3 linked regions of the Homo sapiens genome follow. The protein of the gene in region 1 purifies or fractionates together with the protein of each later gene. This does not show direct contact. Each region holds a gene or a part of one and is shown on either strand. Other genes may lie near its edges.

Region 1 (7,000 bases):
TTTTCTACCCTGAGGGAGTATGGGAATTTGTATTTGACGCAAGTGGTCATTGTTCAATAAGTGGATAACATTTAAGCATCTTGGCAGGAGTGCATAGCTGGAGTTAGCACTGTTCATGGCTTGAATAGATCTCCAGACCCTCAAAGTATGTGGGTATAGTTGTGTTTGCATTGAATTAATAAGTTCAGACAGTTTTATTTATTTATTTTTGAGACAGAGTCTTGCTTTGTCGCCCAGGCTGGAGTGCAGTGGTGTAATCTCGGCTCACTGCAACCTACGCCGGCTGGATTCCAGCCATTCTCATGCCTCAGCCTCCTGAGTAGCTGGGATTACAGGCGTGTGCCACCAGGTCCAGGTAATTTTTTGTAAGGCGTGATCAGACTGGGTTTCACCATGTTGACCAGGCTGGTCTCGAACTCCTGGCTTCAGGTGATCCGCCTGCCTCAGCCTCCCAAAGTGCTGGGATTACAGGCATTGAGCCACCGCACCTGGCCCTGATCTGGTGAAACCTGGTCTCTACTAAAAGTACAAAAATTAGCCGGGCGTGGTGGCGCCTGCCTGTAATTTCAGCTACTCAGGAGGCCAAGGCAGGAGAATCGCTTGAACCCACGAGGCAGAAGTTGCAATGAGCCGAGACTGCACCACTGCGCTCCAGCCTGGGTTACAGAGTGAGACTCCACCTCAAAAAAAACAAAATCAAAGGTCTTCTAGAAAATGTTTGGAACCCACGTCTTTTTTTTTTTTTTTTTTTTTTTTTTTTGAGATTGAGTCTCGCTCTGTTGCCAGGCTGGAGTATAGTGGCATGATCTTGGCTCACTGCAACCTCCGCCTCTTGGGTTCAAACGATTCCCCTACCTCAGCCTCCTGAGTAGTTGGGACTACAGGTGTGCGCCACCATGCCTGGCTAATTTTTTGTATTTTAGTAGAGACGGGGTTTCACTGTGTTGGCCAGGATGGTCTTGATCTCCTGACCTTGTGATCCGCCTGCTTCTACCTCCCAAAGTGCTGGGATTACAGGCGTGAGCCACTGCACCCGGCCGAGAACCACATCTTAAGTCAATGGAGAGGATTCCTGTAATCCCAGCACTTTGGGAGGCCGAGGTGGGCAGATCATGAGATCAGGAGATCGAGACCATCCTGGCTAACACGGTGAAACCCCGTCTCTACTAAAAATACATAAAATTAGCCAGGCGTGGTGGCAGGCGCCTGTAGTCCCAGCTACTTGGTAGGCTGAGGCAGGAGAATGGCGTGAACCCGCGAGGCGGAGATTGCAGTGAGCCGAGATCGCTCTACTGCACTCCAACCTGGGTGACAGCGAGACTCCATCTCAATAAATAAATAAATAAATAAATAGGATTGCCACATTTTGCCATTTATATTGAGGCTTCAATAGATGTGGCAAGTTTATGAATTCATTAATTCAGCATCCACTGTGTGCTGCTACACTCAGTGCTAGATGTAGGATTGAAGAGCTAAGGTAGAAATCTTTGCCCTCAAAGAACTTGGTCCTTTTGGTTAGAGGTGGGTAAACAAAACGTCATGAGGCAAGTACAGTGATAACTGATAACTCTGCTGTGAGAGTAGTCTGGGGAAGGAGGAATTAAGGCTTTCTAAAAGAAGTTGACATCTCAGCTAAATTAGAAGAATGAGTAAGAATTAACCCAGGTTTACATAGCTTTCTCTTCTGCCGGCCTGCTTTTTCCAATTCCATTGCTGCTCCATAGAATTTTAATAAATGGATTTCAGTCACGTTTCAGGCTTTTTTTTTTTTTTTTTTTTGCTAGAGGAGGTACCAGAGAAAGTGACAGTCAAACACAAGCTAAAAATTCAAAGTATTTTCTGTATCATAATCTAAGGAATTAGTGTATGAGAAGGAGATACATACCTGATCTGATCTGTGGTGGGTCTTTTCCTGGTCTCCTTCCCAGTGCATCTCGTAATATCCTTGCCCTTTTAATACTAGACTTTGGCTTAGAAACAGTACTTGCTAGTCTTAAAATAGAAGTAGATTTACCTTGGTGTATTGAGAAGTGTACCTGATTTGGAGGCAAAAAATCTGGTTTTGAGTTTGGCTCTTTCATTGTAGTAGATATCTTATCTTAGACTAACCATGCAACTGCTTCAGGCATTGGTTATCCCTTCTCTGAAATGTAGGGTCTAGACTCATTTATTCAGTGACCTTCTTGAATTATAATTGCTTATGATTGTCTTTTGAGATTTGTGTTATTCTTGCAAGTGGAGAGGAGGGATTTACAGAAACCAGTTAATGTTTTCTTTGTCTGATGGTAAGTGACATGTTCTGTGGTGGCTTATTGATATTAGAAGATACTAACATGGGGCAGAGGCAGAGGCAAAGCAGCAGTTTGCTCATATAAGCTACTTCTGGTTTTTGGCTTGTTAATGTTAGATTCAGCCACAGAGACAGAAGCACCTCTCTAACTTCAGTGGTGAAGACTGTATAGTTAGTTGTGAGATAGTGGGAGACCATAAAATAAGGTTGCCATGGTCATTTGCTGGCTTGTTCTGGGTGATGATACAGTTAGTTCATTATGAGATATGAGGGAAAGTAAGTTCTGGAATAAACTCCCGTGGTGCTGTGGTGAGACACAATCTATTTTTACCTAAGGAATAATACTTTGAGCTAATATAATAGGAAAGTAACTAGTTCCTGATTATTAGCCACGCATATGACTTTAAGCAATGGATAAACTGCAGCTGAGACTTACACGGATGAGATATTGCAGGATCCCAAGCGACTTCTGAATTCTCAAATGGCTTCCAGTTCTTTGGCTTGCTGCCAACCAAAGGAATTTTTCAATCTCCTGTAGCTCAGCTGAAATTTGAGAAAGTTAAACTATTTTAAGTGCATTTGAAATTTGTTGGTTTTTACGACTTTTTTTTTTTTTAATTTATTTTTTTAGACAGGGACTTGCTCTGTCACCCAGGCTGGAGTGTGATCTTGGCTCACTGCAACCTCTGCTTCCTGGGTTCAAGTGATTCTCATGCCTCAGCCTCCCAAGTAGCTGGGATTACAGGTGTGTACCACCACACCTAGCTAATTTTTGTATTTTTAGTAGAGATGGATTTTGCCATGTTGGCCAGGCTGCTCTTGAACTCCTGACTTCAAATGATCCATCCACCTTGACCTCCCCAAGTGCTGGGATTACGGGTGTTAGCTACTATGCTCTACCATGATCTTTATTAACTAATAATTGTTTTGTACTTTTTTTTGAGACAGAGTCTCTGTCGCCCAGGCTGGAGTGCAGTGGCGCAGTCTCGGCTCACTGCATCCTCCACCTCCTGGGTTCAAGTGATTCTCCTGCCTTAGCTTCCTGAGTAGCTGGGATTACAGGTGCGCGCCATCACACCCATCTAATTTTTGTATGTGGGGTACAGGTGGGGTTTTACCATGTTGGCCAGGCTGTTCTCGAACTCCTGACCTCAAGTGATCCACCCATCTCAGCCTCCCAAAGTGCTGGGATTACAGGCATGAGCCACCACACCTGGCCTGTTGTGTACTTTTTTGAGCCCACTGTGTGCTGCCTGACTTTATAAGACATTGAATTTTGTTAATAGAATGTAAACTCCATGAAGGCAGAGATTTTTGTTTATTTTGTTCACTGTGGAATTGCTAGCACCTAGAATACTGCTTGACAGACAGTAGGCAGTCTGTAAATTTATTTGTTTGTTTGTTTGTTTGTTTGTTTATTTATTTATTTTTGAGATGGAGTTTCACTCTTGTCGCCCTGGCTGGAGTGCTAGTGGCACAATCTCAGTTCACTTCAACCTCCGCCTCCTGGATTCAAGTGATTCTCCTGCCTCAGCCTCTAGAGTAGCTGGGACTACAGGCGTGCACCACCACGCCTGGCTAATTTTTGTATTTTTAGTAGAGGCGGGGTTTCACCATGTTGGTCAAGATGTTCTCAATCTCCTGATCTTGTGATCCGCCTGCCTTGGCCTCCCAAAGTGCTGGGATTACAGGCTTGAGCCACCGTGCCTGGCCTGTAAATATTTATTAAATAAAAAGTGTGTTGGACTTTGGGAATCAATTTGAAGATAAGTTTTAGGATTAATATAGATGGCATCACAACTCACTTACAGCATTCAAAGCTGCCCTCAAATTATTTTGCAGGGATGTATAATTGAATTGAAAATAATTCTGTAATTTCCTTTCAGATGGAATAGCATTGACCCAGTTTACAAAGCCATCTGAAGTGCCTGAGTTGTATTTGAAGTACATATTGATACTGAGGATTAGGGTTGGTATGAAGGCCAAAGAGGAACAACATCTGTAGTCAAATATTATTATTAAAAACTTATGATTATAAGAGCAAGACATAATTAAATGAGAAATTTGGAAAAATATAGAAAAGTAAAAAATCACTCATAATCTTATTAGTGGAGACAACCCCTTTTATTTTATTTTATTTTATTTATTTATTTTTTTGGGGGGAGAGAGTGTTGCCCTGTTTCCCAGGCTGGAGTGCAGTGGCACAATCTTGGGTCACTGCAACCTCTGCCTCCCGGGTTCAAACAATTCTGCCTCAGCCTCCCAAGTAGCTGGGATTACAGGTGCATGCCATTATACGCAGCTAATTTTTGTATTTTGGGTAGAGGTGGGGTTTCACCATGTTGGCCAGGCTGGTCTCGAACTCTTGACTTCAGGTGATCTGCCCACCTCGGCCTCCCAAGGTGCTGGGATTACAGGTGTGAGCCACCGCGCCTTGCCACTTTTTTAAAGAGGTGGGGTCTTACTCTACCTCCCAGGGCATGGTCATGGCTCACTACAGCCTTGACCTCCTGGGCTCAAGCAATCCTCCCACCTCAGCCTCCCAAGGAGCTCGGACCACAGGTGTGTGCCACCACACCTAGCTAATTTTTTTGTAGAGATGGGGTTTTGCCATGTTACCCAGGCTGGTCTCGAACTCTTGGGCTCAAGCCACCTGCTCACCTTGGCCTCCCAAAGTTCTGGGATTACAGGCATGTGTCCCAGTGTGTAGCTGTGATAACCACTTTTAACATTTTGGTGTATTTCTGTCCTGATTTTTTTTTTTCTGTGGATTTTAATATTAGTGGTCATACATTTTTGTAACATAAAGTCAGATTATGTACCTAGTTTTGTATCTTGCTTAATTTGCTACCTAAGTATCTGCCATGAAAAGTACTTTTTTTGGCCAGGTGTGGTGGTTCATGCCTGTAATCCCAGTACTTTGGGAGGCTGGGGCAGGAGGATCACTTGAGTCTAGGAATTTGAGACCAGCCTGGGCAACATAGTGAGACCCCATCTCTAATAAAAATTAAAAAATAGTTTGCCAGGAGTGGCAGTGCATGCCTGTAGTCCCTGCTACTCAGGAGGCTGAGGCCGGAGGATTGCTTGAGCCCGGGAGGTCAAGGCTGTAGTGAGACCTGATTGTGTGATTGCACACCAGCCTGGGTGAAAGGGCAAGACTGTCCCCCAAAAATAAAAAGAGATACTTTTTTTTTTTAAAAAATTGAGACGGAGCCTCGCTCTGTCACCCAGGCTGGAGTGCAGTGGCACGATCTCAGCTCACTGCAACCTTGGCCTCCCGGGTCAAGCAATTCTCCTGCCTCAGCCTCCTGAGTAGCTGGGATTACAGGTGCCCTCCACCACGACCGGCTAATTTTTTGTATTTTTAGTAGAGACGGGGTTTCACCATGTTGGCCAGGCTGGTCTCAAACTCCTGACCTCAAGTGATCTGCCCACCTCAGCCTCCCAAAGTGTTGGGATTACAGGCGTGAGCCACCACACCCAGCCAAGAGATACTTCTTGAATAGTTTTATTCTGTATCTACTTGAAATATAAGTGAACTTTTTGTTTATTTGGAATGCTTTTCTTGGGAATATTTTTTCACCTTTGGCTTTTAGCTTAGAAGTTATGACTGCACATTACAAAGGGGAATGTTCAAACCTTTATCAGTAAGTCAAACATCTTTTGAGTTATTGTTCCTGTAATGTTTTGCATTATTTGCAAGATTAAAACTCAGTGTAACATCACAAGTTTTTTTCCCATACAATTATTTACATTTCTTTATTATCTCTTTAAGTTCATCTTTATATGTTCAAGTATACTAAGTTTTTAAAAAAGGCTGGGAGCCAGAGTCCTAATTTTTTTTTTCTTTGTGACGGAGTCTCACTCTGTTGCCCAGGCTGGATTGCAGTGTTGTGATCTTGGCTCATTGCAACCTCCACCTCCCGGGTTCAAGCGGTTCCCCTGCCTCAGCCTCCTGAGTAGCTGGGATTACAGGCACCCGGCACCACGCCTGGCTAATTTTTGTATTTTTAGTTGAGGCAGGGTTTCACCATATTGGCCTGGCTGGTCTTGAACTCCTGACCTTGGCCTTCCAAAGTACTGGGATTACAGACGTGAGCCACTGCACCTAGTGTATTTATATATTGGCCAGGCTGGTCTCGAACTCTTCATCTCAGGTGATCCATCTGCCTCAGCTTCCCAAAGTGCTGGGATTACAGGCGTGAGCCATCGCGTCTGGCATTTAGTTGGTTTTCAGGAAGTGTTAGTATCATGAGGAGTGATTGAAGGAAGGAGGAAAAGACCACAGGGATTCATGCGGGATGAGGGAAAGAGGATTGAAGTGTGGGAACAAACATAATTTTGGAATAAGGAGAGAAAATTAAGTGGGAATAGAAAATGAACACAGCCAGTTTTAAACCAGAATACTATTTTTACATTGAGAATGGAAAGGACTGAACCTTGAAGGTTAAATGAGATGATTCCTGACCTTTTTTCTAGGTCCTAGTAATTAGTATGTAAGAAATAGAACTTGGTCGGAGAACTTGGCCAGGTGCAGTGACTCATGGCCTGTAATCCCAGCACTTCAGGAGCCCAAGGTGGGTGGATTGCTTGAGTTCAGGAGTTTGAGACCATCCTGGATGACATGACAAAACCCCGTCTTTACAGAAAATACAAAAATTAGCCAGGCGCGGTTGCACGTGCCTGTAGTCCCAGCTACTTGGGAGGCTA
Region 2 (7,886 bases), on another chromosome or scaffold:
GGATGGGGAACTGGAGCAGCCAGTGGCCCCAAGAGGAGGAAGGAAGGGAGGCACGGCAGACCCAACACCAGCTGTGCCAGGCTTTGGGGGGTGAACCCATGAGGCATCGTCACACACTGACATTTTCATCCCTCCTCAGCAGCTGCTTCCGGCTCCCTGAGACCCAGCCATGGAAGGCATAGAAAGGCATGTGACAAGAAACTCATGGCTTTTAATCCTGGCAGGACAAGGAAAACCCCGTCAAAGATTTGCATAAATTTTGCTGCTCTCCTGCTGGGGGGGGGGGGGGGGCAGTTCGTCACATTTAATAAAATTCTCTCCCTCCCTTCTCCCGACTGCATTATCTCATATTTATTTATTTGAGACAGTCTGGCTCTGTCGCCCAGGCTGGAGTGCAGTGGCGCGATCTTGGCTTAGTGGCGCGATGACGGCTCACTGCAACCTCCACCTCCTGGGTTCAAGCAGTTCTGCCTCAGCCTCCCAAGTAGCTGGGATTACAGGCCAGCTGGGATTACGCCGCCACACCTGGCTAATTGTATTTTTAGTAGAGACAGGGTTTCACCATGTTGGCCAGGCTGGTCTCAAACTCCTGACCTCCAGTGATCCACCTGCCTCAGCCTCCCAAAGTGCTGGGATTACAGGCATGAGCCGTCATGCCCGGCTTTCTTTTTGTTCTTCAAGAAAGGGAAGGAAAATAACATTGTCTTTGAGCCAGTTGCGTGTCGAGGAAATAAGGGTACCCCCCCACCACACCCCAACCCCCTCAGTGCCCTGGGGTTTGAAGCAAATGCTCAGAGGGCCTGGTAGGCGGATGGGCGTCTCCGGATGATGCAGAAAGCAATAAGCACCAGGGCGAGGAGGCCAAGAAGGATCAGGCCGATGATGAGAGGCAGCAAGATGGACCGGTCACTGGGGCAGGAGAAACCTGGCGGAAGGATAGGGCAGGTAGGTATTTGCAGTGACGTGCTGGTTGGGATAAAGGTGGGAGGAGGGAATGGGGGGATGCTGGGGAGTAGGAGATTGGTGAGGAGCTCACCGCAGTGACTCAGCAGTGATAAAAGGGGGAAACTGGCAGAGTCTTGTAGAGGATGGAAAGAAAGCTGCCCTGTAGCCATGACAAGCTGGGAGAGCGAGATTTGGGGGGTTAAGAAGAGAGATGAGTGGCTTATGGGCCTGGGGAAGGGGTTTTCAGTGCAGTGGGAGGATTCTAGGAGGGAAGGAGTAGGTAGGTCTTACTTTGCCCAAAGACCCCTGTGTGGGGCAGCTGAGCAGCCTGGAGCCTCAGGGAGAGCAGGTCGAGGTGGACAGCTGGTGAAAGAATGATGCTCGAGTTGCTGCAACTGAAGCTCTGCCCCAGGGGTGCTTGGAGATCTCGAAGGGATGCATTCTGAGCCGAGAATGTCCACTCTGGAGGAGTGAGGAAGGGTCAGATCCTATCCACCTCCCTGGCCCCAGCTTAGTCCTTTCAGGAACCCTGGCGTCTAGTGGTAGCAATGAGAAAGGGAAGGAGGTTACTTACGTGCTGCGTGGGGGAAGGACACATTGTACTCCACCGCCATGTAGCTCAGGTAGACAACCTTCTGCTGGAGGTCCTGTGGGGCGAAGAGGAAGGCGCAGGTGGTATCCCTCTCCACAGAGGAAGGAGTAGCGTGTGGGATTGGGAGGGGAGGGGCGCCGGGAGGCTGAGTGAGGGGTGAGACTGAGGTCATGGCTATACCTGCATGAATCCAAAGCTGAGGTGTCCATAGGGGAATGAGAGAAGCAGGTGGGGATGGGCACCCTCACAGCTTCCCTGGACCTTGGTTTTGTTGGGGTTCAGTACAGAGATGCCCCAGGCCTGCGGAAGTTAAAGACTGGAAGGTCACAAGACTGCATGCGATGCCGGCCAAGGTTCCCTGTCCCCTCTTCCTTCTTCCCTCTGAGCCTATATCCAGTCCTGCCTCCCTCCCCTCTCATCCCCCAGTTTTAGCTTTACCTCTCCTCCACCCTGGGTTGTGTACATGACTCGAATCTGAATCTGGGCTTGGAGGTGGACACAGGGCTGGGAACCATTGGTCCACGTGTAGTCTCCAATGGTCTCCTTGGAGGTTGGGCTAGGACTCGGAGAGGGTGGAGGTGGTTCTGGGTGGGCAGAACTGGTGAATCCTGGGCTGGTGGCAGTGCTGTTGCTTGTTGGATGAACCGTGGCATTTCCATGACTAGTGGTGGCAGGACTGTGAGTGGCAGTTGAGGGTCCCTGGCTGGTGGCAGTGCTATTGCTTGTTGGATGAACTGTGACGTTTCCATGGCTGGTGGTGGTGGGGTTGTGAGTGGCAGTCGTGGGTCCGTGGCTGGTGGTGCCTGTGGTGGTTGTCCTGTGAGTGGTGGTTTTGTGGCTCTTGGTAGTCCTGTGGCTGGTTGTTCCAGTGCTCTCTGTAACCGTGGGTGTCACCGTGAAGGATGGCAGCAAAGTAGCTGATTTTTTGTGAGGACAGTCATTCCCTGTCCCCTGGGCTTTTGGCAGAGAGGAGATGGTTAGCAACCCAGGGCAGGCTCCCTCCCAGGGGCCCCCTCCCCTCAGCCTCCTTCCTCCTTACCTGCCAGTAGCCCCAGCAGGGCCCCCGAGAAAAGCACAGCCAGCCTCATGGCTGAACCGCCTCACCCAAAGTCCAGCTAGGCTGTCTGCACCAGTTGCTCAACCCTGCTCCCTCAGCCCTCTCTTGGAAAGGAGGAAATGAAAGTCTCACTTCCTGTACTGGAGATGATCCCACCCACAGCCTGACTCAGGGGCCTCAGCTCTAGCCACCTCTCTCTTAGTCATTAGTTTTTGTAATTAAGTTAGGGGACTGTTGGCCCTGCTTCATCAGGGCAAAGTCAACAGTGTCACATGGGTGCAAACGGAGTCCTAGGGCAGTTGATCCACAGGGATCCATGTGTCAAACTCAGCGAAACTTGCTTGGCAGTTGTGGCAAGTAGCTATGGGAACAGCTGAGGTACAGGCCCCTCCCTTGGTGGGGAAATCGGTTTCCACTCCTTTCCCCTGGACCTCTGGGCTGACCCCTGTACTACTTCCTCTTGGCTGAGGCATGTGAGGGGCTTGTGACCATCCACACCCAGCCCTTTACAGAGGGGCAGCACTCCAGTCAGCATTGTCATTCACAGAGCCGAGAACATGGCTTTCCAGCGTCTGAGAACTCAGATGGTGACAAGAAAGCAACAGCCCAAAGGTAACCATCTGCTGGGGAAGGGGGGAGCAGAGATGCACCCAGTAGCAGGTGGGAGAGGGAAGGGGAGGTAAGAAATGAGAAGCCCAAACAGGCAGTTTCCAAGTCATTTTATTCAGAATTTTGTGTTTGTTTCCTGAATCAATAAATACTATACAAAACAATGTAAAAATGGCTACCATTTTCTCTCCCCTGCTTCCCCCCACCTGGGGACAACCCCCTGGGCAACCTCACTTAGGGGTTTTAGGGGTTCTCCCTCCAGATTTGGTCCAGCAAATGAGGCTGAGTGACATAGTCCCTTGAATCACTTTCAAAGGAGCTCAGCTGAGGTGAGGAGAGCCTCTGGGATCTGGAGGTTACTAGGTTAGGGAAATGGATTAGTGTTTTTTTTTTTTTTTTGGGAGAAGAGCCGGCGCCTGGGGCAAGAGCCTACCCCAAAGAAAAGGGTGTCTAAAATGTTCACGGTTCCTTCTTTTGCCTCAAAAAGTGACATTTATTCAAAGAAAAAAAATGACAAGATGTCCATCCCTTGGCTCCCTTCCCTCCCCCCTCCTGCTGCTCCTCAGCCCCCAGAGATTGAGCCCTGGCTGGGGCTGGGTGGCAGGACAGCCCCTCAGATGAGGTCAGCAACATTGAGGGGCATTTCCTCAATGGAGGTGTTGTAGAAGGTCTCAATGTCTCGAAGAGTCCTCTTGTCTTCTTCTGTCACCATGTTAATAGCCACACCTTTACGGCCAAACCGTCCACCTCGACCGATTCTGGAAAACAAGGAAGGGGATGAGGAATATCAGGAGCTTTAAGCCCAGGGAGGGCCAGGTGTGAAGGGGTAGGGGAGTGTTCCAGATCTACGCTTACCTGTGGATATAGTTTTCCCTGTTGGTGGGAAGGTCATAGTTGATGACTAAAGAAACCTGCTGCACATCAATGCCTCTGGCCTACGTCAAGAAAGACAACTCTTCAGCATGTGCACGGAGGACACTCTATCCCGGAGGGAAGACACTTAGGCATCCATGTGGGCAGCCAAGGAAGGCAGAGGAAATAAGCATCCCAGTTCCCCAAAGGCCTTAGGCATGCCAGATTCTATTCCAAGCTGCTACTTTCCTGAGAGGCACTGATGTCCCCTTGGAGAGGGAATCACCTTGGATCCTCCCTTCTGCCTTTGCTATCAGTTCCCTCTACTCACCAGCAGGTCAGTGGTAATCAAAACTCTGCTAGAGCCAGAACGAAACTCCCTCATAATCACGTCTCGTTCCTTTTGGTCCATATCTCCATGCTGGAAGAGAAAACAAATATGCAGCAGACCAGGTAGGCACCTGGGTTCCAGGAACCCTGGCTTCAAGTAGGACACTTCTGACGGGCAGACCCACAACAGGCTGGCAGCGGGCAAACACACCATGGCGGATACAGTGAAATCTCGAGCATGCATCTTCTCGGTGAGCCAGTCCACCTTCCTCCGGGTGTTGATGAAGATGACTGCCTGGGTGATGGTCAGGGTTTCATACAAGTCACATAGTGTGTCCAGCTTCCACTCCTGGAGGTTGGGGGACAAAAATCAGTCAGGGGCTATACCCAACAACTCACTACCAGGCCCGCCTCCTGCACTGGGCCCCACCTCTCGTTCCACGTTGATGTAGAACTGGCGGATACCCTCCAGGGTCAACTCTTCCTTCTTGACAAGAATCCGAATGGGGTCCCTCATGAACTTCTTGGTCACCTCAAGCACATCAGAAGGCATTGTGGCTGACAGCAAAACTACCTAGTGGAAAAAAAGGCCAGTCTTAGAGTGCTGGTTCCTTCCTGAGGCCTGCTCCCTTCCCTAGCCACACCTAAAACTGAAGCAGATGCATAAAAAGGCTCAAGAATCCAGTATATGGTTCCCCTGGCACTTACTATTTTTCAAGAATCATTAGCTATTCAAGCAAGACTGCCCTCACCTGGGTGTTGCTGTTGAGCTTTTGGAATATGTCATAGATCTGGTCCTTGAATCCACGGCTTAACATTTCGTCAGCTTCATCCAGTACAAACATCTTGATGTATTTGGGGGCTAGAGAAGAAAAAAAAAGCCAATATATAGCATATGATTAGGGAAATGTGGGAGAGATATATCCAACTTCGCTGATAAAAAACAGAGAGGAGCCAAGTAGTCTGCTCTCAGAGTACAAAGACTGATCCTTTGCCCAGGACCTTCCCGCCAGGCAGACAACAGCCCTGGGAAGTAGGACACTGCCAGGGCTGCACTGGCAGGGAAGCCAGAGGCTCAGATGACACGCATGGGCTCCATCACAGAGCAGCTCTTCCCCCAGAGAGAAACCAGCATCCTTGGGAATGACTCTGGCTTACGCTGAAAGACTGGAAAGCGTGCACAAGAGCAAAGTGACCCAGGGGATTGGAGAACCGAATTACTCACACAGGTATCTCCGGTTAAGCATATCAAACACACGGCCAGGGGTACCCACGATGATGTGGGGAGCTTCCATCTGCAGTTTCTGCACCTCAGCACGCACGTTGGTGCCCCCGATACAGGCGTGACAGGAGGCGCCCATGTAGTCTCCTAGTGCCATGACCACCTTCTGTATCTGAGCAGAGAGAGGCAGGTGCTCATATGTCAGTTACCACTGTGCCCGGCACCATTCTTAAATGTTTTTCATGTATTGATTCCTAACCAACAACTTTGGGGCATGCACTATTATTAAACTCACATTCAGCTGAGAAACAGGCAGAGGCTAAAATCCACTTAAGATCGTGCTGTCAATAGGTGGCAAAGACAGGATTTCAACTCAGTCTGGTTCCTGAGTGTACAGTGATTCACAATGAGGCCGCTCAGATAATTAATTCAGTTTCTTTACTCTAGATATTTAGAACCCTTAACCTTCTGAAAACTAATTTGACCAACTGCCTCATCACGCAGCAACCATTTTTTTTTTCTTTTTTTGAGACAGAGCTTTGCTCGTTGCCCAGGCTGGAGTGCAATGGCACAATCTCAGCTCACTGCAACCTCCACCTCCTGGGTTAAATTCTCCTGCCTGAGCTTCCCGAGTAGCTGGGATAAAAGGCACACGCCACCATGCCTGGCTAATTTTTGTATTTTTAGTAGAAGCGGGGTTTCACTATGTTGGCCAGGCTGGTCTCCAACTCCTGATCTCAAGAGATCTGCCTGCCTTGGCCTCCCAAAGTGTTGGGATTATACGAGTTGAGCCACCACACCCAGCCAGCAACCAGTTTTATAGAACAGGTGATGCATATCCATGTCCTATTGCACTCCTGCCATAGGACCCAAGCTACGAGGCATGTTCACTCTGAGAAAACTGAGAGCCAAGTGCCTTAGAATGGAGCTCTGCTGTAACTTCTTACATTATCCACACCCAGAATAATCACTGCCCCTGCCACAGAACATTTAAAAACATGCTCTGACATCAGTGTTGCAGCATGACCCAGGAAAAAGTCCAGCATTAGAATTGTGTGTGCCCCAGGCATGAAACAGCTCTGGCTATTAAGCAAGGGTGAAAAGGACTGTCCATCTGCTCTGACTACTGTAAGATCACCCCCACACCAAGGGATCTCTTAGCCCATAGTGAAGGTGCTTATTCAGAACACAGTCAAACTTGCCCAGCCAGCCAGGCTTCACCCAACAGCTTTCCCATTTGACTCAGGAAATGGGTGGAGGAAGCAATGGTTACGTTTGGGTAAGAAATAGCTTTTAATTAACCCAGCAGGTCTCGAGAGTGTTAGGGCACCCATGTCTTCCTCCCAAGGTGGTGATCAGAGAAGACTTCTCTGGTCCTTGGATTATACTCATCATCCCTAAATCAGCCCTGAAGGAGGGAATAGAAGCCACTCTTACCTGCTGAGCCAATTCTCGAGTGGGTGCTAGGACCAAGGCCTGGGTGGCTTTTAGATCTAATTCAATCTGCTGCAGAATCGATATGGCAAATGTGGCCGTTTTCCCAGTCCCAGATTGGGCTTGAGCAATCACATCATAACCTAAACAAATAAATTAGGAGTTGAATGTGGTAAAGAGCATACCCTTTGGGATATTCAAGTCCTAGGTTAATGAGGTCAATAAGCAACCAATGAACCAAGCATTTCATGGCTCACAAACTACCTTCCCAATCAACACAGTTACACAATGGGAACCAGATCAGAAACAAGGACCAGTTATTAACTCATCTAGTATTGCACACCAAGCTGGACTAGAAACATGGCTGTAGATGCAAATATAAGCTGGCTACAATACCACCTCTTTAAAGGAAACCTATGTGTCCAAGGCATGAACCAGGCATGGGCACGGATCAAAAGCCAAGCTGGGATGAACAAGGAGTTGCTTTGTCCCTGGCTGATATGAGATGGGCATCACCAACCAGATGCCACTCTACCCAGGTCAGGGACAGTCCACAATGTCTTCTGGGACTGAGAGGTCTCACCCTTGATACAAGGTAGAATGGCTCGCTGCTGGATGGCAGAGGGCTTCTCAAAACCATACGCGTAGATGCCACGGAGAAGGGACTCCGAGAGGTTCATGTCATCAAAGCTGTCAACAATCTCATTCCAGTTACTCTAGGGGATGCAAAGAAATTAAAGCTTGAGTCATGGAAAAGGTGGAGCTGAGCTGTAGTCTCCGAGCAAACAGAATCTGGTGCCTACTAACAAAAGCCTCAGAGCTTACAACCCTCCTCCCTTTAGGGA
Region 3 (11,204 bases), on another chromosome or scaffold:
GCCACCGTGCCTGGCTGAGAATATTATTTTCTTTCTAAGCACAAGGAGTAGTATACTCAAGATTTATTTTTTTATTTTTTTATTTTTGGTGGTTGATCATTTAATATTTATTTTATCAAAAAATTGCCTGAGTTGGCTGGGTGTAGTGGCCCATGCCTGTAATCCCAGCACTTTGGGAGGCCGAGGTGGGCGGATCATGAGGTCAAGAGATTGAGACCATTCTGGCCAACGTGGTGTGAAACCCCATCTCTACTAAAAGTACAATAATTAGCTGGGCGTGGTGGGAGGCTCCTGTAGTCCCAGCTACTCGGGAGGCTGAGGCAGGAGAATCGCTTGAACCCAGGAGGCAGAGCTTGCAGTGAACAGAGCGAGATTGCGCCACTGCACCCCAGCCTGGCGACAGAGCCAGACTGCGTCTCACAAAAAAAAAGAAATTCCTGAGTTTTCCCTCTAATAGAAGTATTCTTCTTTCTTTTATGTTAAGAAAGCTTTAATTGACATGTAGTTCACATGCCTGAAAACACCCCTTTAGAGTGGTGAACTGGTTCAGTGGTTTTTCGTGTGTTCAGAGTTATGCAGCCACCACCACTCATTTCAGAACGTTTTCATCGGCTGGGTGCGGTGGCTCCCCCGGGGTGGGAGGGAGGATAGCTTGAGGCTAGGAGTTTCAGACCAGCCTGGGAAACACAGTGAGACCCCATCTCCACAGATAATTTTTAAAAGATAGGAAAAAGGCCGGGCACGGTGGCTCACGCCTGTAATCCCAGCACTTTGGGAGGCTGAGGCGGGGCATCACAAGGTCAGGAGATCGAGGGTTTAGTAGAAACCCCGTCTCTACTAAAAATGCAAAAAATTAGCCAGGCGTGGTGGCGGGTGCCTGTAGTCCCAGCTACTCGGGAGGCTGAGGCAGGAGAATGGCGTGAACCCGGGAGGCGGAGCTTGCAGTGAGCCGAGATTGCACCACTGCACTCCAGCCTGGGCAACAGAGTGAGACTCCGTCTCAAAAATAAATAAATAAATAAATGTTTTTGTCACCCTACAAAGAAACAACATACCTGTTAGCAGCCTCTCCGCCCAGCTCCTGGCATCACGAATGTCTATGATTTCCCTATTCTGAACACACAGCTGGAATCGGATACTATGCCACCTTCTGTGTTTGACCTCCTTCACGGAGCACAGCGTTCCCACAGCTGGTCCACGGTGCTGAGTGTCAGCAGTAATCTCTTGTTGGGTGGACCCCGTTTCTTGGCCTCCTTCCTCTGTTGATGGACATCAGGGCAGTTTTCCCTCAGACTCCTCGAGTAGGGCAGGACTTCTTGAAGGTTATGGCTACAGGACACCCCACTGTCTGAAGTGGTTTACCCAGCCCCATTGGTGTGCCTTTAGGGCCCTCAGGACCCTGGCCTGCAGCCTGCAGTGTGGACCCTGGGACTGCTTGTGCCCAAGTGTGGCGGGCAGGGCGGCTCCTGGAGGTGGGATCTGGGTCAGAGTTACTTCATGCATGTCCAGTGGCTTCCAGTAGACGTGGTGCCGGCAGTTCTCCAGCCTTAGAACCGTCTTCCATCCTGAGGGCTGTGGCTTTCATCACTGCACATGCTCGTGTGTGAACCAGGCATGCACACTGAATCTTTCATTGTGACGTTGATCTTTGATTTAAACCTTTTCTCATATTTTCACTGTCCAGAATGTCACCCCTTCCCCCTTTTTTTTAAACAGGGTGTTGTCACAAATTTTGAAATTTTCCGAATGAGGGAGAAACAGGTACCTGTGGATGTGGTCGAGATGAAAGGCAAGTTGTATTTTAGTCACTTTGAGGCGAATGGGGCCTACGTGCTGTTTTACTCTTGGCTTTAACACTTCCATGCGAGGGGTTGTCTGAGCAGCTGAGTCAGGACTGTGAGCCCTCACCATGAATAGTCATCTCCAGGTCACAGAACGTGTTTAGAGCCTGGGCAACATAGTGAGACCCTCTCTGTACAAAAAACAAATAAAAAAAATTAGCCAGGTGTGGTGGTGCGCACCGATAGTCCCAGCTGTTTGAGACGCTGAAGCGGGAGGATCACTTGAGCCCAGGAGCAGAGGTTGCAGTGAACTGAGATTGCGCCCCTGCACTCCAGCCTGGGTGACGGAGCAAGACCCTGTCTAAAAAAAAGAGAAAAGAGATTGAGCCTGTGTTCTTGTTTGGCTTTTTGTTTTGCCATGGAGAAAAGGAGGAAGGAAGGGTTAAAAATAGGTGAGAAAATGGGAAACATGGCCGCCCTTCCAGGCAGGGAGACCGGAGGTCAGGATCCCACTGTAGGTGCACACTGGGTGCGAGGGAAGCGGCATCCACAGCTGCTGACAATGTCGGGCTCCTGCGGTCCTGCTGTGGGTGTCCTGCTCTCAGGAAGGGAGCAGTTTCACGTAGGTCACTCCACACAAGTGGAAGCAGCTGTCTCTGAAACTCCAGGAATGTGCACCTTTCCTGCTGTTGCTTGCTCTCCCGTCCTTTTAATGAACTTTTACACGTCGGGGGATATTTCTCTGTGGTTGAATAGTGAACATTTTAACTGATCAAGAGCACTATGTTCTGAATTGACCAAAAAGGGAGGGGTCTGTTTTGTGCATTTTAGAAACCATCATAGCCTTTGCCTGGGAACCAAATGGAAGTAAGTTTGCTGTGCTGCACGGAGAGGCTCCGCGGATATCTGTGTCTTTCTACCACGTCAAAAACAACGGGAAGATTGAACTCATCAGTAAGTAACCTGGTCCCTTTCCTCTTCTGAGTAGGTCAGCACAGATGATGACCCAGTCGCTGCCCAACAGTGAGCATTTGACTGGCCTAGGACCACTGCTGGGCAGGCCGGGACTCGCCTATGAATGGGGTGTGGCCTCGGCTGATGGAAGTGAGCGATGGCCTGGAGGTGCCGCCTCCTTGCAGGGTGTCTCTCTGAGCCCCGTTGAGCCCTCACGTTTAAGCGAGTATTTCCAAGGCTTCCATTCTCTGCCATCATCTCAAGTGAAGCTTTTTCTCTTCTGGCTGTAGCTGCTGTCCCTGGGCTTGGGGTCACTTCCTGTGGACATACTCCTGCCAGTCCCCAGTCTGGGTCAGGTGCCTTTGACCAGGGTGCGCAGAGCTGTTGCACACAGCTGTACTCTGCCCCCGTGCACCCGGTTCCAGGGGTGCCACACTGCACCCACCTGGGGCTCGCTCCTCACAGTGGTGCGTGGGCCCTCGCCTGTCTCACGGCACCTGCTGCCTGTGCCCTCAGCTCCTCACTTCATCCTGGGGTCTCTGCTCAGCACAGAGCCCGGTGCCCGCGGGGATTGAATGAGCCATTGCTTGTTGCTTCATAGGCGTGGGGTGTGTGTGTGTGGTAGCCAGGAGGTGGCGATGGGCTGTGTTCCTCACACAGGACTCTGGCTGCCAGCTGCCCTCCTGCAGAGCCATGGGTTTGGCTCTGTACCAGGAAGGGGTTGGAATCTCCTGGCCGCACCTTTCGCAGCATGATTCTGTGAGGAGTTTAGTTTTCACTTTGCTAGAGCTTGGCAGGGTGCGTGGTGCCCTCAGTTGGCAGTGGATTACAAGATTGGCTGTTTCATTAATTCTGGTTGATAGAAACATATGGGCAATTGCAGACTGTCCAGAGACTTGTGTAAGTCTTCTAGGTCATAAAACATAGGCAAGCAGAGGCACCTTGTACCTTCCAAACATGCTGCGTGACACGCCTCTCCTGAGGTTTGGCATGGACGCTGGGGCCACCGCATGGGCTCCATCCCATGCCCGTGGCTGTTGGGGTTTTCGCTTGTGCAAGTCTGAGACCCCTGCCCCTGCCAGGGTGCACTGCCCTCCCACATCTCCTCCCCTCCTCCCCACGTCAGCCTGCCCCATGCCTCTTTTTTGGATGTACCACAGGCTGAGGGGAGAGAGGCCACAGGTTGTCAGCTCTGTTTGAGATGCAGGGAGCATATGCTCTGAGGGGGACTTGAGCCAGCCCCAGCTGGCCTTCACTTCTCACTGTTCCAGCGGCTCTGCCCGAGATCCATTCCGGAAGTAAGAGTTAGTACCTGCAAAGATGATGACTGTAGTCAGTTTCAACAAGCATACAGCTTATCCAAAGACGCCTTGTCGCTAGGAGAGTGGCTTTGGTCTTTTGGGGTCACACGTCTCTGACATCTCTCTGTTGGGGTCCCTGCAGCAGTGAACATTTGCTGTAAAGGGAATTCTTTGTCCAGTTACCTCAGGAAATAAGATAGTATTGTTTTGAAATACCCCTGTCGCATCTTCTTTTTTTTCCCATTTAAAGTATGGATCATGACTTAGGGGGTACTTGGCGATGGACTTTGTAAAATTGTTTTCCGAGGTGGTCCAGCATTACCAGCTCTGCCCTCATGGGCAGCATGAGCACGGCCAAGTCCTCCAGCCTTGGCTGCCCCGGCACTGTGGAAGCCCTCGCAGCTCGTGACAGGCGCGCTCTTTCCTTTCAGAGATGTTCGACAAGCAGCAGGCGAACACCATCTTCTGGAGCCCCCAAGGACAGTTCGTGGTGTTGGCGGGCCTGAGGAGGTAGGTGTCTGCGCTCTGAGCCTGTCCGCCCTGTGAGTAGCGCTCTGCTGTGGCAGAGACCCCTCAGGCGCCTGCACCCGGCTTCTTGGTAGAGAGAGTATTGTGCGCTGAAAGGGTTGCCCCAGTGTCAGTGGATAGGACTTCATTGAACCTCTGCAGACCCACGGTACTCCAGGACTCAGGCCAAGCCCGCACAGAGTGAAATAAGCGCTCCCAGATGCTTTCGTGAAGTGACCAGGCAGACCTGTCTGCGGGTTGTGGTTCTCTGTGGTTAAACAAGTGCCTTCCAGCCATCCAGTAACCTCCCCCCGGGGGTCAGTCCCTTGTCTTCTAGTGGGAAGGGTATTCGTTACACAGCTGTGAGGCTGCCTTACCTTTGTGGTTGGTGTCACGGTGTCGGTCTCAGCTGTGTTCCAGCAGTGTGTCGAAATCATGGAGAAGCTTCCAGCTTTCTGCTCTGAGTTAAAAGAATACCCTTTTGTTGCTGCTCTCCCTTGCTTCATTGTCCACACTTGCTACTGTATTTTTGGAGGCTTACTTAGCCTCAGATAACATTTCCAGTAAAAATAATATGATGGCAGTCATATGTAATACTCACTGCACACTCTGCATCTGTGATTTGGTAAGTCTCACAGCGGCCACCAGAGGCTGTTGCTGTGCTTGTTTCCATGTTAACGCCGAGGCTGGCTCCCTGGGGACCCCATGCCGCAGCACCTCTCAGGAGTGGGATGCCAGGAGGTATGCGTCTCCATGAAGCCTGACGGTCCTGTCTGTCTTTGCAGTATGAACGGTGCCTTAGCGTTTGTGGACACTTCGGACTGCACGGTCATGAACATCGCAGAGCACTACATGGCTTCCGACGTCGAATGGGATCCTACTGGGCGCTACGTCGTCACCTCTGTGTCCTGGTGGAGCCATAAGGTGCAGGCCTGTGGGGCATAGTTTTGACTGTGGATAGAAGCAGGGAGTGCTGGCTAGCTGCTGACTCTGGTGCTGTCCTGGGACCTCAGGGAAGGGGCACCAAGCCTCTGTGTTGAACAGAAGCCTTGGCTGGTGTTAGTGGCAGGAGGAGGAGGATTCTGGGTTGTAGAAGAGGTGGCGCCGAGTGCAGGAGCAGCCCCTGCTCATGGTTGCGGGGAGGTGGGGGGTCTTACCCTGGGCCCAGGGACCCCTGAAAAGGAGTGAGAATGTCTGCAGAGAGGAGTCGTTTCCTTTGAAGTCTGAACAGAGTTCCATAACCGCAGACATTAAGATCTGTTTTGGGGTCAGTGGTTGAGTCCAGCTGCCGCGTTACCCACAACTCGTATTCCAAAACTGCTGGTTAAGTTTGTCAAGGACTTTCAGTATTTAGTGACTTGTAAAAACATTGATGGAGGCACTGATACTTGAACTAGTCCATGCCAATAGAGCCTGTGAAACCAAACGCGGGTAATTTTGTTTAATGAGATACAGAATTTGTAGGAATATCAACTTCCCAAATGTTACTGCAAGTGTCTAGAGTTAGAAATCTTCGCATTCGAATCAGGATATGTTGATCACAGCCTGTGTCCAGGTATGTTCAGATGTCACTGCGGTGGGGCCTGCCTTGACACTTGAAATCACTTTAGGCCAGGCACAGTGGCTCACACCTGTAATCCCAGCACTTCAGGAGGCAGAGGTAGAAAAATCACTTGAACCCAGGAGTTTGAGACTAGCCTGAGCAACATAGCGAAACCCTAGCCCCATTAAAAAAAAAAAAAAAAAAAAGACTTTTTAAGCTGTTGACCACTCTCCTTGAGTTATGAACACTTAGCTTCCAAAATGCCGGCCTGCAACAAGGAGTTTATGCTGAGTGCCAGTGAAGGCGCCCTCCTTCATGAGAGAGGCCTGCCATGAGGAGAGCGGAACTAGGCGGCGTGTAGTGATGCAGTTAGCTTACATCCAGCACAGGGCTCCGCACAGCTCACACCCGGCCCAGGGCTCAGCAGTGAGTAGTGCTATGCAGTTAGCTTACGTTTGGCACAGGGTTCAGTCCAGTTTAAATCCAGCACGGGGTTCAGCGGCGCAGTAGTGAGGCAGTTAGCTTACATCCAGCATGGGGTTCTTATTGCCAGCCAGAATGTGCAGGCCTGTGCTGTGATGAGCGCTGCTCCAGCTGCTCCGTGCCCCGCACTCCGGGTCGGTTGCATAATGGAGGTGTCTTGCATTGACTGCCCACCTACCCTGCTGTCAGCTCAGCACAGGCAGAGCTTTGTTTGCTTCACACGTGTCCCCGATACCCAGGACCTTGTTCAGCAAGTGACATAGTCACGGTTGTGGCTCTCTGACCCCTCTGTGTCCTGGTGTGTCCCTGCCCTGGCCTAGGTGGACAACGCGTACTGGCTGTGGACTTTCCAGGGACGCCTCCTGCAGAAGAACAACAAGGACCGCTTCTGCCAGCTGCTGTGGCGGCCCCGGCCTCCCACACTCCTGAGCCAGGAACAGATCAAGGTCAGCATGCCCCCACCCCCGGGTGCAGGGCACATGGAGGCAATTGTGGCGTTGAAAAGGTGTCAGTTTTTTCTGTTATTGTTAGGGTGGTGACTGGGGGATAAAAACGTGACATTTGCAAGGATTCTTTGAAGAGACGCAGGAACAGTGAGAACTGAATGGAATAGAACAGCTTTAGGATAGTAACTTGAGGCTTTCAGCTTCTTTAGGGAAGTTTTGCATGAACCCGAGGGGTGGATAAAAAGATGCCAGGGCCATTAAAAAGTCCTGCTGGGATTAGAAGCGGCTTGTCTGGGATTTACATTATTGTGGTAAAATAGGCCGTTGGTCTTAGGTCAGAGCAAAGAGGAGGGTTAAATCCCAGGGAGAAAGTCCGTCTCAAAGTGAAAGATGGAGGAAGGAGCAGGCACGAGCGCTCCTGGGATGCTGTGTTGTGTGAATGACCCTGGGTGTCAAGGAGGAAGGAGCAGGCACGAGCGCTCCTGGGATGCTGTGTTCTGTGAATGACCCTGGGTGTCATGGAGGAAGGAGCAGGCGCGAGCTCTCCTGGGAATCCGTGTTCTGTGAATGACCCTGGGTGTCAAGGAGGAAGGAGCAGGCGCGAGCGCTCCTGGGATGCTGTGTTCTGTGAATGACCCTGGGTGTCATGGAGGAAGGAGCAGGCGCGAGCGCTCCTGGGATGCTGTGTTCTGTGAATGACCCTGGGTGTCATGGAGGAAGGAGCAGGCGCGAGCTCTCCTGGGAATCCGTGTTCTGTGAATGACCCTGGGTGTCAAGGAGGAAGGAGCAGGCGCGAGCGCTCCTGGGAAGCCGTGTTGTGTGAATGACCCTGGGTGTCGAGGAAGGAGAAGGCGCGAGCACTGCTGGGATGCCGTGTTCTGTGAATGACCCTGGGTGTCATGGAGGAAGGAGCAGGCGCGAGCTCTCCTGGGATGCTGTGTTCTGTGAATGACCCTGGGTGTCATGGAGGAAGGAGCAGGCACGAGCGCTCCTGGGATGCTGTGTTCTGTGAATGACCCTGGGTGTCATGGAGGAAGGAGCAGGCGCGAGCTCTCCTGGGAATCCGTGTTCTGTGAATGACCCTGGGTGTCAAGGAGGAAGGAGCAGGCGCGAGCGCTCCTGGGAAGCCGTGTTGTGTGAATGACCCTGGGTGTCGAGGAAGGAGAAGGCGCGAGCACTGCTGGGATGCTGTGTTGTGTGAATGACCCTCGGTGTCATGGAGGAAGGAACAGGCGAGCGTTCCTGGGATGCTGTGTTGTGTGAATGACCCTTGGTGTCATGGAGGAAGGAACAGGCGAGCGCTCCTGGGATGCTGTGTTGTGTGAATGACCCTGGGTGTCATGGAGGAAGGAGCAGGCGCGAGCGCTCCTGGGAAGCTGTGTTGTGTGAATGACCCTGGGTGTCATGGAGGAAGGAGCAGGCGCGAGTGCTGCTGGGAAGCTGTGTTGTGTGAATGACCCTGGGTGTCATGGAGAAAGGAGCATGCGAGCGCTCCTGGGAAGCTGTGTTCTGTGAATGGCTTTGGGTGTCATGTCATGTTGGCAACTCTGAAGATTGCATTTGTGCTTGTTGCTTTGAATGTTAAATCCTGAGTGATGGGTCTTTTGTTTCAGCAAATTAAAAAGGATCTGAAGAAATACTCTAAGATCTTTGAACAGAAGGATCGTTTGAGTCAGTCCAAAGCCTCAAAGGTGAGCCTCATTCCCAAAATGAGGGCTGTGCTGTGACATCCGCCATCATGGCAAAGGCGGGGCTGCGGGGAGCTGCTGTGTATGTGCTCAGAGTTGCCTCTGCTCCGAAGACACTGGTTCTGTTCCCCCCCAGGAGGGATGCACTGGGGAACTGGGGTTGGCACGGGGACTTGGAGTTGGTGACCTCACTGCTGCCTTGTGGGTGGGGGGCAGCGTTGGGGGAAAAGTGAGAATGAATGGACTAGCCATTCCTGCTTGAGTGCCTCTGTATGCTGTCCTTCTGGCACCGTCCGCCTGGGTGTGGGCTCTTCGCGATGGGGAGGCACTTGTCTTACCAGTTCTGTGCTTTCCCCAACCTCATGCATAGGAATTGGTGGAGAGAAGGCGCACCATGATGGAAGATTTCCGGAAGTACCGGAAAATGGCCCAGGAGCTCTATATGGAGCAGAAAAACGAGCGCCTGGAGTTGCGAGGAGGTAACTTAGAGATCCCTCAGTCCCCAGGAGCTGGCCCTTACGCTGCCCCTGGGCCCTGGTGCCCGCGGACTCCTGCGTTCCTTCCCACTGGCCTCGGCGGTGCCACTAGGCATGTGCCCCCATGGGTGATCTGCGCCCTTTGTCCCCTCAGGGGTGGACACTGACGAGCTGGACAGCAACGTGGACGACTGGGAAGAGGAGACCATTGAGTTCTTCGTCACTGAAGAAATCATTCCCCTCGGGAATCAGGAGTGACCTGGAGCACTGTGGTGAGCGTCTGCAGGGGGCGCGATGGGGGTCCTGTTGGCTGCTCATGCTGCTTCAGTTATCCCCGTCACTGAGGAAGCACCTCCTTTAAGGCAGGGGTGAAGGGTGAAGCCCTAGTGTCATGTGCCCAGGGTTAGCTGAGCCTCGTGTGAAATGTAGAGTCGGTGCCGACGTGGCCTCGACTGCGCCCTCTGACCACATTGCAGATGGCGCCTTTCAGGCAGTGCTGGGTGAGGGAGGAGCTGTGGCCAGGTGTTGGGAAGTGCCAGGAAGAGGAGGGTGGCCATGCCTGGCCATTTCCTGATACCTGTGCTAGTGACGGCCGCGGTGTGTCCACTGGAAAGAAACACTGGCGTGCACGGCTGTGACTGTGGTTTCAGCAGTTCTGAGACAAGAGCCTTCCAAGTCGGGGGCTGGGGAGCAGAGTGCGGGAGCTCCTGAGTCCTGGGGGCCTCCGCGCCTCACAGCATGGGCACATGTGGGACAGAAGGCCTAATGGGGTGCCTGAGGGTGGCCTGGTTGCTGTCCCCCCAGGGTGGGACCATGAGCGAGTAGGGGTGGCACACGGGCTCAGCTCTCTGTGGCCGGGGTGGCTCCTCTTGCGGGACTCAACGTCAGCCCCAAGGCGATGTTCAGGGGGTCCCTCAGCCTTTTGAGGTGGTGCCGTTTAGGGCCGCCATGCCTGTCTATCCAGGGGACGGACTCCGCCTGCTGTTCCCGCGCTGAGCTACAGGACTCCCGAGTGTGAGCCGCGGTTCCTCTGTTGCAGCGCAGCCGTGTGTGCTGTGGAGCCGAGGCCGTCCTGCAGGAAGCCGCGTGACTCCCGCCTCCTCCCTGTGCTCTCTGGCTCTGGACTGTGACTGCGCCTGGATTCTGCCATTGCGACACATTTTTGTGCCTTTCAGCCCCTGGTGTCTGCAGTGGGGGATTTAAGGCACCCGCTTCCACTTCTTTCTTGTTTGGAGTTTTCTGTTGGAACCGCCGGCGTTGGCTCCGAAGACTTAGCGACGCCACTGGCGGCACCTTCTCCTGCGCCCAGTGATGTTTCCACGGTGCCTGTACACAGCCGAGCAGCATTTCCGTTGAAGGACTTGCATCCCCATTGCGGGCAGTGCTGGACGTGTCCCGGAGACCCACCGGGAGGGCGCCGCCATGCCTTGTACCCCCACCGTGCAGGTTGTGGCCGGTTTTCTCCGCAGGTTGAACATGGAAATAAAAGCAAACTTGTATGAAAAACCGGTCTTTCTCCTCTCTTTGAATGTAGATAGAGACCTTGAACTTGGTGCCTGCCTCCCTCCCCAGTGGCAAGGGCCTGCTTGCCAAGCCAGACCTCTGCAGGGCGCTGTCCCGTCCGGTCGTCACGCACACTCGGCCACCCTGTGTCCAGCGATGCACTAGTCATGCCACAGTCTCTTCTGTTGCGTTGTTTTCTGTGAAAGATGCTGGTCATTTTCCCTGGTGAGAACCCTGTGACTTTTCCTTGGAGTTAGACACATTGGGAAACTTGTATTGAGAATGGTCAGTTCTGCCCGTTTTTTCATTTTGAGATGGAGTCTCGCACTATCACTCGGGTTGGAGTACAGTGGCGCAATCTTGGCTCACTGCAACCTCCGCCTCCCGGGTTCAAGCGATGCTCCTGCCTCAGCCTCCTGAGTAGCTAGGACGACGCATGTGCCACCACGCCCAGCTAATTTTTTGTACTTTTAGTAGAGACAGAGTTTCACCATGTTGGCCAGCCTGATCTCAAACTCCTGA

Evidence for each region.
Region 2: the proteins of EIF4G3 (region 1) and EIF4A1 purify together in Homo sapiens (co-immunoprecipitation; 7 studies listed by BioGRID and IntAct, with this or other methods). This does not show direct contact.
Region 3: the proteins of EIF4G3 (region 1) and EIF3B purify together in Homo sapiens (affinity purification with mass spectrometry; 3 studies listed by BioGRID and IntAct, with this or other methods). This does not show direct contact.

Annotation. Positions count from the first base shown.
Region 1 is NC_000001.11:21,166,898-21,173,897, reverse strand, and holds part of EIF4G3 (eukaryotic translation initiation factor 4 gamma 3), read left to right. Parts: intron 1-5,858; exon of another isoform or gene 5,859-5,937; intron 5,938-7,000. UniProt on the Homo sapiens protein: Component of the protein complex eIF4F, which is involved in the recognition of the mRNA cap, ATP-dependent unwinding of 5'-terminal secondary structure and recruitment of mRNA to the ribosome. Functional homolog of EIF4G1.
Region 2 is NC_000017.11:7,574,417-7,582,302, reverse strand, and holds the end of EIF4A1 (eukaryotic initiation factor 4A-I), read right to left. Parts: intron 7,758-7,886; coding exon 7,625-7,757; intron 7,591-7,624; exon of another isoform or gene 7,456-7,590; intron 7,185-7,455; coding exon 7,045-7,184; intron 5,780-7,044; coding exon 5,611-5,779; intron 5,493-5,610; exon of another isoform or gene 5,345-5,492; intron 5,248-5,344; coding exon 5,138-5,247; intron 4,960-5,137; coding exon 4,816-4,959; intron 4,735-4,815; coding exon 4,597-4,734; intron 4,477-4,596; coding exon 4,387-4,476; intron 4,349-4,386; exon of another isoform or gene 4,212-4,348; intron 4,139-4,211; coding exon 4,059-4,138; intron 3,962-4,058; coding exon 3,817-3,961; 3' UTR 3,297-3,816; downstream 1-3,296. Other genes in the region: CD68 (macrosialin isoform A precursor), read right to left, coding at 792-925, 1,237-1,407, 1,520-1,592, 1,718-1,837, 1,976-2,493, 2,577-2,625. UniProt on the Homo sapiens protein: ATP-dependent RNA helicase which is a subunit of the eIF4F complex involved in cap recognition and is required for mRNA binding to ribosome.
Region 3 is NC_000007.14:2,370,061-2,381,264, forward strand, and holds the end of EIF3B (eukaryotic translation initiation factor 3 subunit B), read left to right. Parts: intron 1-1,716; coding exon 1,717-1,789; intron 1,790-2,612; coding exon 2,613-2,735; intron 2,736-4,467; coding exon 4,468-4,546; intron 4,547-5,328; coding exon 5,329-5,467; intron 5,468-6,889; coding exon 6,890-7,015; intron 7,016-8,628; coding exon 8,629-8,706; intron 8,707-9,073; coding exon 9,074-9,182; intron 9,183-9,333; coding exon 9,334-9,437; 3' UTR 9,438-9,451; intron 9,452-10,120; exon of another isoform or gene 10,121-10,143; 3' UTR 10,144-10,685; downstream 10,686-11,204.